Regions from separate parts of the Homo sapiens genome. Here region 2 is linked to region 1. The links come from fine-mapping of genetic effects on gene expression. Tissue or cell type: gastroesophageal junction. Region 1 holds a variant in brackets; the other region holds the start of a gene. All regions are shown on one strand. Distances are between the middles of the regions. Region 1 overlaps VPS33B-DT (VPS33B divergent transcript). Region 2 holds the start of VPS33B-DT (VPS33B divergent transcript).

What was found. PIP is the estimated chance that this variant, and not a neighbour inherited with it, causes the effect.
Region 2: VPS33B-DT starts here. The variant in region 1 is fine-mapped to the expression of VPS33B-DT in gastroesophageal junction (GTEx, PIP 0.98).

Annotation. Positions count from the first base shown.
Region 1 is chr15:91,029,636-91,032,546 of GRCh38, reverse strand. VPS33B-DT (VPS33B divergent transcript) reads right to left here. Exons shown (of 4, transcript NR_110104.1): 3 at 2,306-2,666; 4 at 1,408-1,888. It also overlaps the pseudogene LOC390638. Among named protein-coding and RNA genes, the nearest start is that of VPS33B-DT, 8.5 kb to the right of the region's middle. The variant C/T (reference allele first, on the strand shown) is at 1,372.
Region 2 is chr15:91,021,412-91,024,322 of GRCh38, reverse strand. VPS33B-DT (VPS33B divergent transcript) reads right to left here and starts at 1,701. Exons shown (of 4, transcript NR_110104.1): 1 at 1,583-1,701; 2 at 352-1,010. It overlaps VPS33B (VPS33B late endosome and lysosome associated), which reads left to right and starts at 1,729. Exons shown (of 23, transcript NM_018668.5): 1 at 1,729-2,169. The coding sequence starts at 2,074. RefSeq lists enhancers at 1,765-2,174, 2,029-2,645.

The DNA.
Region 1 (2,911 bases):
CAGAGATGGCCCACTGTACCTCCCTTGTTGAGTTGTCCGAGGACCCCTCTGGCCACCCCTCACAGGCGATGAACTGGGCAGTAAGGAGGAGGAGGAGGCGCCTCAGCCCATGCCGAGCATCTTGGAGGACCTGAAGAGCCGGGAGGCCATGGTGAGCCTGACTCCCACTGCCCCACCTTTGCTGCCTCCCTCTGTGGTCCCTCCCAGACCCCCTTTTGCTCTTTGTTTCCTGCCCTCTGATTTCTCTGGACCCTCGTGCCTTCCCTGGGAGCCAGTGATCAGACATCATTTCACCTGTGACCCACAGGTGCACCCTCTGAGGCCCCAAAGGAAGACCTCCTCTCCCCCTCCCTGCCGCGTTTGTCCTGTGTATCCCCCTACAAGAATGCATATGTCTTGCCTGCAGGTGGCCTTTTTAAACTCAGCTTTAGTCAGTGCCGAGGAGGAGCAGCAGGCACAGCTACATGGGCAGCTGAAGGAGCAAAGGGTGTGTTGCCAGCACCTGGCTCACCCAGTGGCCTTGGCCCAGAAGGAGCCAGAGGCGGCAGCCCCAACCCCAAGGACCGGGGGCGATTCCGCGTGTGGGGAGACCCACCGGGCTTTCTCCATGTTGGCCAGGCTGGTCTTGAACTCCTGACCTCAAGTGATCTGCCCTCTTCGGCCTCCCAAAGTGCTGGGATTACAGGCCTAAATCACCACACCCAGTCCAATGAAGACTTTTTTACAATTTGCAGTTCAGGCTGTGGAAAATTTGAGCTACAAATTAGCAAGAGTTTACTCTTCACATGAATGTTGTCAGATTCATCTTTTAATAATTGGTGTTTATATTTTCATTTAATGTCATCCACTTTTCTACAGGGTATGGACAGTGGATTTGCAGGTGGAGAAGACAAAATTTATAATGTTTACGATCAAGCCTGGAGAGGTGGTAAATAAAGATATGGCCCAGAGTATTTATAGGTCTGGTAAAAACCTGGACAAGGATATGTATGGTCATGACCTAGAAGCCAGAAGAAAGACCAACAGGTATCAAGCCATACAACTCTGTTTCAGTGTTTACACCAGTGAAAATAAAGTAGTTCATAGTCTTTTCTCTTGTTCCCTAGATTTGTTCCCAACAAGGAGTTTTTCAGACCATAGACAGAGAAGCCGAGAGGCTGAGAAGGACCAGTTCAGTTTGAGGAAGATTCTTTTGATTTGGACACATTTTTGGAAGAAGCCAGACAGCATGGTGGCCCTCAAAGACCCTCAGCAGCTGCCCCAGAGAACATGAGCATGAAGGCAAGAAGAGGAGGAAGGAGCAGACACACGTCTCTTCAAAGCAAATGAACTGTGATCATCCATAACCCTAATGATGCAAGTGCTGTGGCA[C/T]GACACTTTGTGAATGGTCAGGATACAAACCAAATCTGGATTCTACTTTTTATTATTGGAGAAGGCAAGGGTGGGGAGGGGGCGGGGATAGAAAATTTTACTTTGAATTATTTAGTTTTTTTAAAGAGTGGGTTGTATTTGTGCTTCTCCCACCTTTCAGCATTTGTAGAACATGCTGGCCCACATACACAATCAAGACCACTTCCTTCTGTGTGACACTAGCAGTTCGGGTTAATATTTTGTGTAAGAACAGCTGCTTATGAGTCAAGTCACCCCAACGGCAGTGAGGAGGAGGATGTTCACATATTGGTACTGTCCTGCCAAATAAATGTGGCCCCTGTTGCGCTGTGTTTTAATTCGGAGTGGGGAAAAGAAGCTCTTGCTTTGTTTCAAATGAAAACCTTTAGACAAAATTCTCGGTTATGTTTCCTTTATGTAATAGGCTGGGAGAGTCTCAAAAATCTTCCTCTTCACCAGATGTTTGCAAAACTTTAGGCCTTTGAGCTTGAACCTGGAGCTGGAAAAAAATAAGCACTGTAAGGAAGGAAAGGCAATGTCTGCAAAAACATTCGATCTGAAAATCGCCTTTTTATGAGGGAGTCAGTGAAAAGAACTCAGGCAGTTTTTATGTGCACCTTGTTCTTTTATTTGTTTTCTCCTCAAACTCCCTTTACCATCTTTGTTGTTCCTATGACTCCCTCACCCTCCATTAAAAATTGTAAATTGGGCAAGTCACAGTGGCTCAGTCCTATAACCCCAGCACTGTGGGAGGCTGAGGCAAGAGGACAGCTTGAGGCTAGGAGTTCAAAACTAACCTGCAGCATAGAAAGGCCCAGTCTCAACGAAAACAAATAAATTAAAAAATAAAATATAAATCAATCTGGCCCAAGATCGCATAATAAGCAGGAAAGGCAAGATTTCAGCCCCAGCTTACCTGACTTGAGAAGTGCGCTGCTGTGTGCACTGTGTTCTGTATATCTTGCTAACAATTACAGGTCTTCTTGTACTTCTCCTTTAAAACTGGGAACTCTTCCACCCCAGCATTCTAACAAGCATGAAGGCAGCTTCAGTTACAAATCTCTCAAAGTCCCCATCGTTCCACATTTATGATCTATTTAATTGATACATAATCAGATAGTAGCTGCATGTATATCATAGATGTATCTGGTATACAAACAGATTGACTTGACTCCATCTAGAATATGATTTTCCTGTTGTAGTGCATTCTGAAGTTCTTCTGAAGAAAACTGAACCCAACCCGAACCTCTGTGAAAGCCAGTCTCCTTGTCCTAGAACTTCAAAATATGGGAAAAGATTAATCATGAACTTGAGAAAGTTTCCATGAGCTCCAAATCAAACTGCCAAATTTTTCATCGGCCACAATCGGGTTGATTATTTATTGTTTGAGACAGCGTCTCGCTCTGTGACCCAGGCTGGACTGCAGTGGTGTGAACATGACTCACTGCAGCCTCAACTTCCTGGGTTCAAGGGATCCTCCCACCTCAGCCTCTTCAGTAGCTGGGATCATAGGTGCGCACCA
Region 2 (2,911 bases), 8.2 kb after region 1:
TGGGAGACTGAGGCGGGAAGATCACCTGAGGTCAGGAGTTCAAGACCAGCCTGACCAACATGGAGAAACTCTGTCTCTACTAAAAATACAAAATTAGCTGGGTGCGTGGCACATGCCTGTAATCCCAGCTACTCAGGAGGCTGCAGCAGGAGAAACGCTTGAACCTGGGAGGTGGAGGTTGCAGTGAGCTGAGATCGTGCCATTGCACTCCAGCCTGAGCAACAAGAGCGAAACTCCATCTCAAAAAAAAAAGAGACAGAACATATCACTGCACTCCAGCCTGGGTGATAGATAAAGCCAGACCTTGTCTCAAAAAAAAAAAAAGAAAAGAAAAAACAAACGGTGTCTCACTCTGTTGCCCAGGCTGGGGTGCTGTAGCATGATCGTAGCGCACTGCAGCCTCAAACTCCTGGGCTCAAGTGATCCTCCTGCCTCAGCCTCCCAAGTATCGAGATTAAAGGTGCCCACCACCATGCCTGGCTATTTTTTATGTGTTGTAGTTGACCAATCTTATCTCAAACTCCTGGCCTCAAGCAACCCCCCGACCCCGACCTGGACCTCCCAAAGTGGTGGGAATTAGAGACATGAACCATTACTCCTGGCCAAATTATTTCACCTGTAAAAACTTCAGTATGTATCTCAAAGAGATAAGGACTTGTTTTTAACAGAAATACAAGCCTGTATGACATAGAAATACAAAAAATAATAATAACATAGAAATACAATACCTGGCCCAACGTTGTGGCTCACGCCTGTAATCCCAGCACTTTGGGAGGCCAAGGCAGGCGGATCACTTGAGGTCAGGAGTTCGAGATCAGCCTGGCCAACATAATGAAACCCCGTCTCTACCAAAAATACAAAAATTAGCCGGGCATGGTGGCACTCGCCTGTAATCCCAGTCTACTCGGGAGACTGAGGCAGGAGAATCTCTTGAACCTGGGGCGGCAGGGGGGTTGTGGCGCGGAGCTTGCAGTGAGCCGAGCTCCTCCACTAGGCAAAAGGGCGAGACTCTGTCAGGAAAAAAAAGAGAAGAAAAGAAATACAATACCCGAAAAGTTTTAGTAATTCCTTAAATCAGTTATCTTTGAATTATTATCCAAAAAAGATCCACACATTGAAACATTTTGTTGATACATCTCTTAAATCTCTTTTATTCTGAAGTGTTTTCCCCTCCCACATTTCCCACTTTGCCATTTTTTTGAAGACGACAGATCATTTGTCCCATATAATTTCCTACATTTTGGATATGGTTGATTTCATACCTTTGGTGTCTTAACATATTCCTGCTAATCTCTATATAGCCTATAAACTGGTAGTTAGATCTTGAGGCTTGATTAGGTTCAATTTTTGGCAATAGGTGATGCTCTGTATTTCCTATGCATCTCACCAGGAAATGATATGATGGTATGATTGATCAGAGTTGAGGTATTGTTAGCTAGCCTGATGCATTCATTATGTCTTTTTTTTTTTTTTTTTTTTTTTTTTTGAGGCAAGGTCTAGCTTTGTTGCCCAGGCTGGGGTGCAGTAGCGCGATCGCAGTTCACTGCAACCTCCGCCTCCCTGACTCGAGCGATTCTCCCACCTCAGCCTCTGGAGTGCTGCGACCCCAGGCGCCGCCACCTAATTAATAGACGCGTTGCCTCCGTTTTTCAAATGTCCCTTTCAGGACGCCGTCCCCTTCCTGGTACGCGAAGCGCTGGGAGCGAAAGGGACTTCCGGGAGATCTAGGAAGTCGCTTCTTTTTCTGGTAGAAGGCGGGGTTCTCCTCGTACGCTGCGGAGTCTCTGCGGGGTGTAGACCGGAATCCTGCTGACGGGCAGAGTGGATCAGGGAGGGAGGGTCGAGACACGGTGGCTGCAGGTCTGAGACAAGGCTGCTCCGAGGTAGTAGCTCTCTTGCCTGGAGGTGGCCATTCATTCCTGGAGTGCTGCTGAGGAGCGAGGGCCCATCTGGGGTCTCTGGAAGTCGGTGCCCAGGCCTGAAGGATAGCCCCCCTTGCGCTTCCCTGGGCTGCGGCCGGCCTTCTCAGAACGAAGGGCGTCCTTCCACCCCGCGGCGCAGGTGACCGCTGCCATGGCTTTTCCCCATCGGCCGGACGCCCCTGAGCTGCCTGACTTCTCCATGCTGAAGAGGCTGGCTCGAGACCAGCTCATCTATCTGCTGGAGCAGGTCAGTGCTTGCCTGACGCCTTTATCGCATCTACAGTTTAGCACTCATTGGATGCACATTTCTTCCTTGCCGTGCCCCTTTGATCTTGTTCTTGGCCCCTGGTATTGTCCTTGGCGCTTCCCCAGCAGGTCCAGAATGAATCCAGGGAGTAGTAAGAGCTGTTTGGAACCTGGCCAGAGAGTTAATGGAAATCACCCCCCAACCCCGCATACAGGCAAGGGAGACACCATTAGTGCCAGGCATCCCTAGGGACGGAAAGATGGTTAAGACATCTTTGCCATTAGGGATCTTACCACTCCAGTAGGAGCTGTATGAAGCACAAATTATCACACACAGGTGGTAAATGAGTGATAGAGCTAGTGTACCCGAAGAGTTCACAGTAAGTGATCATTTCTAGTTGGGGTGATGATCTAGGAGCTTCAAGGAAGTGAGTGTGAGTAATAAGCATATTTTCTTTGGAGACTAAGCATGCTCCAGGCAGATAGATTGGTAGGAGCAAAGTTGGCAAACCAGGGAAAGACAAGGCATGTAAGGGAAGACACCCATCAGCAGTTACACAGTAGCCACTGAAAAAAATTTTTTTTCCATTTGTGGCATGAGACAATACTTGATGATTCTAATAGTGATGTGTGTGGTGGCGTAAATGGGCAACAAGAAGGCCAGTTAGGAGACCGTAGATCAGACAAGAAATAAAGGCCCACACAAAATTGGTAGCAGTGGGAATGAAGGAAAGTGATGGATT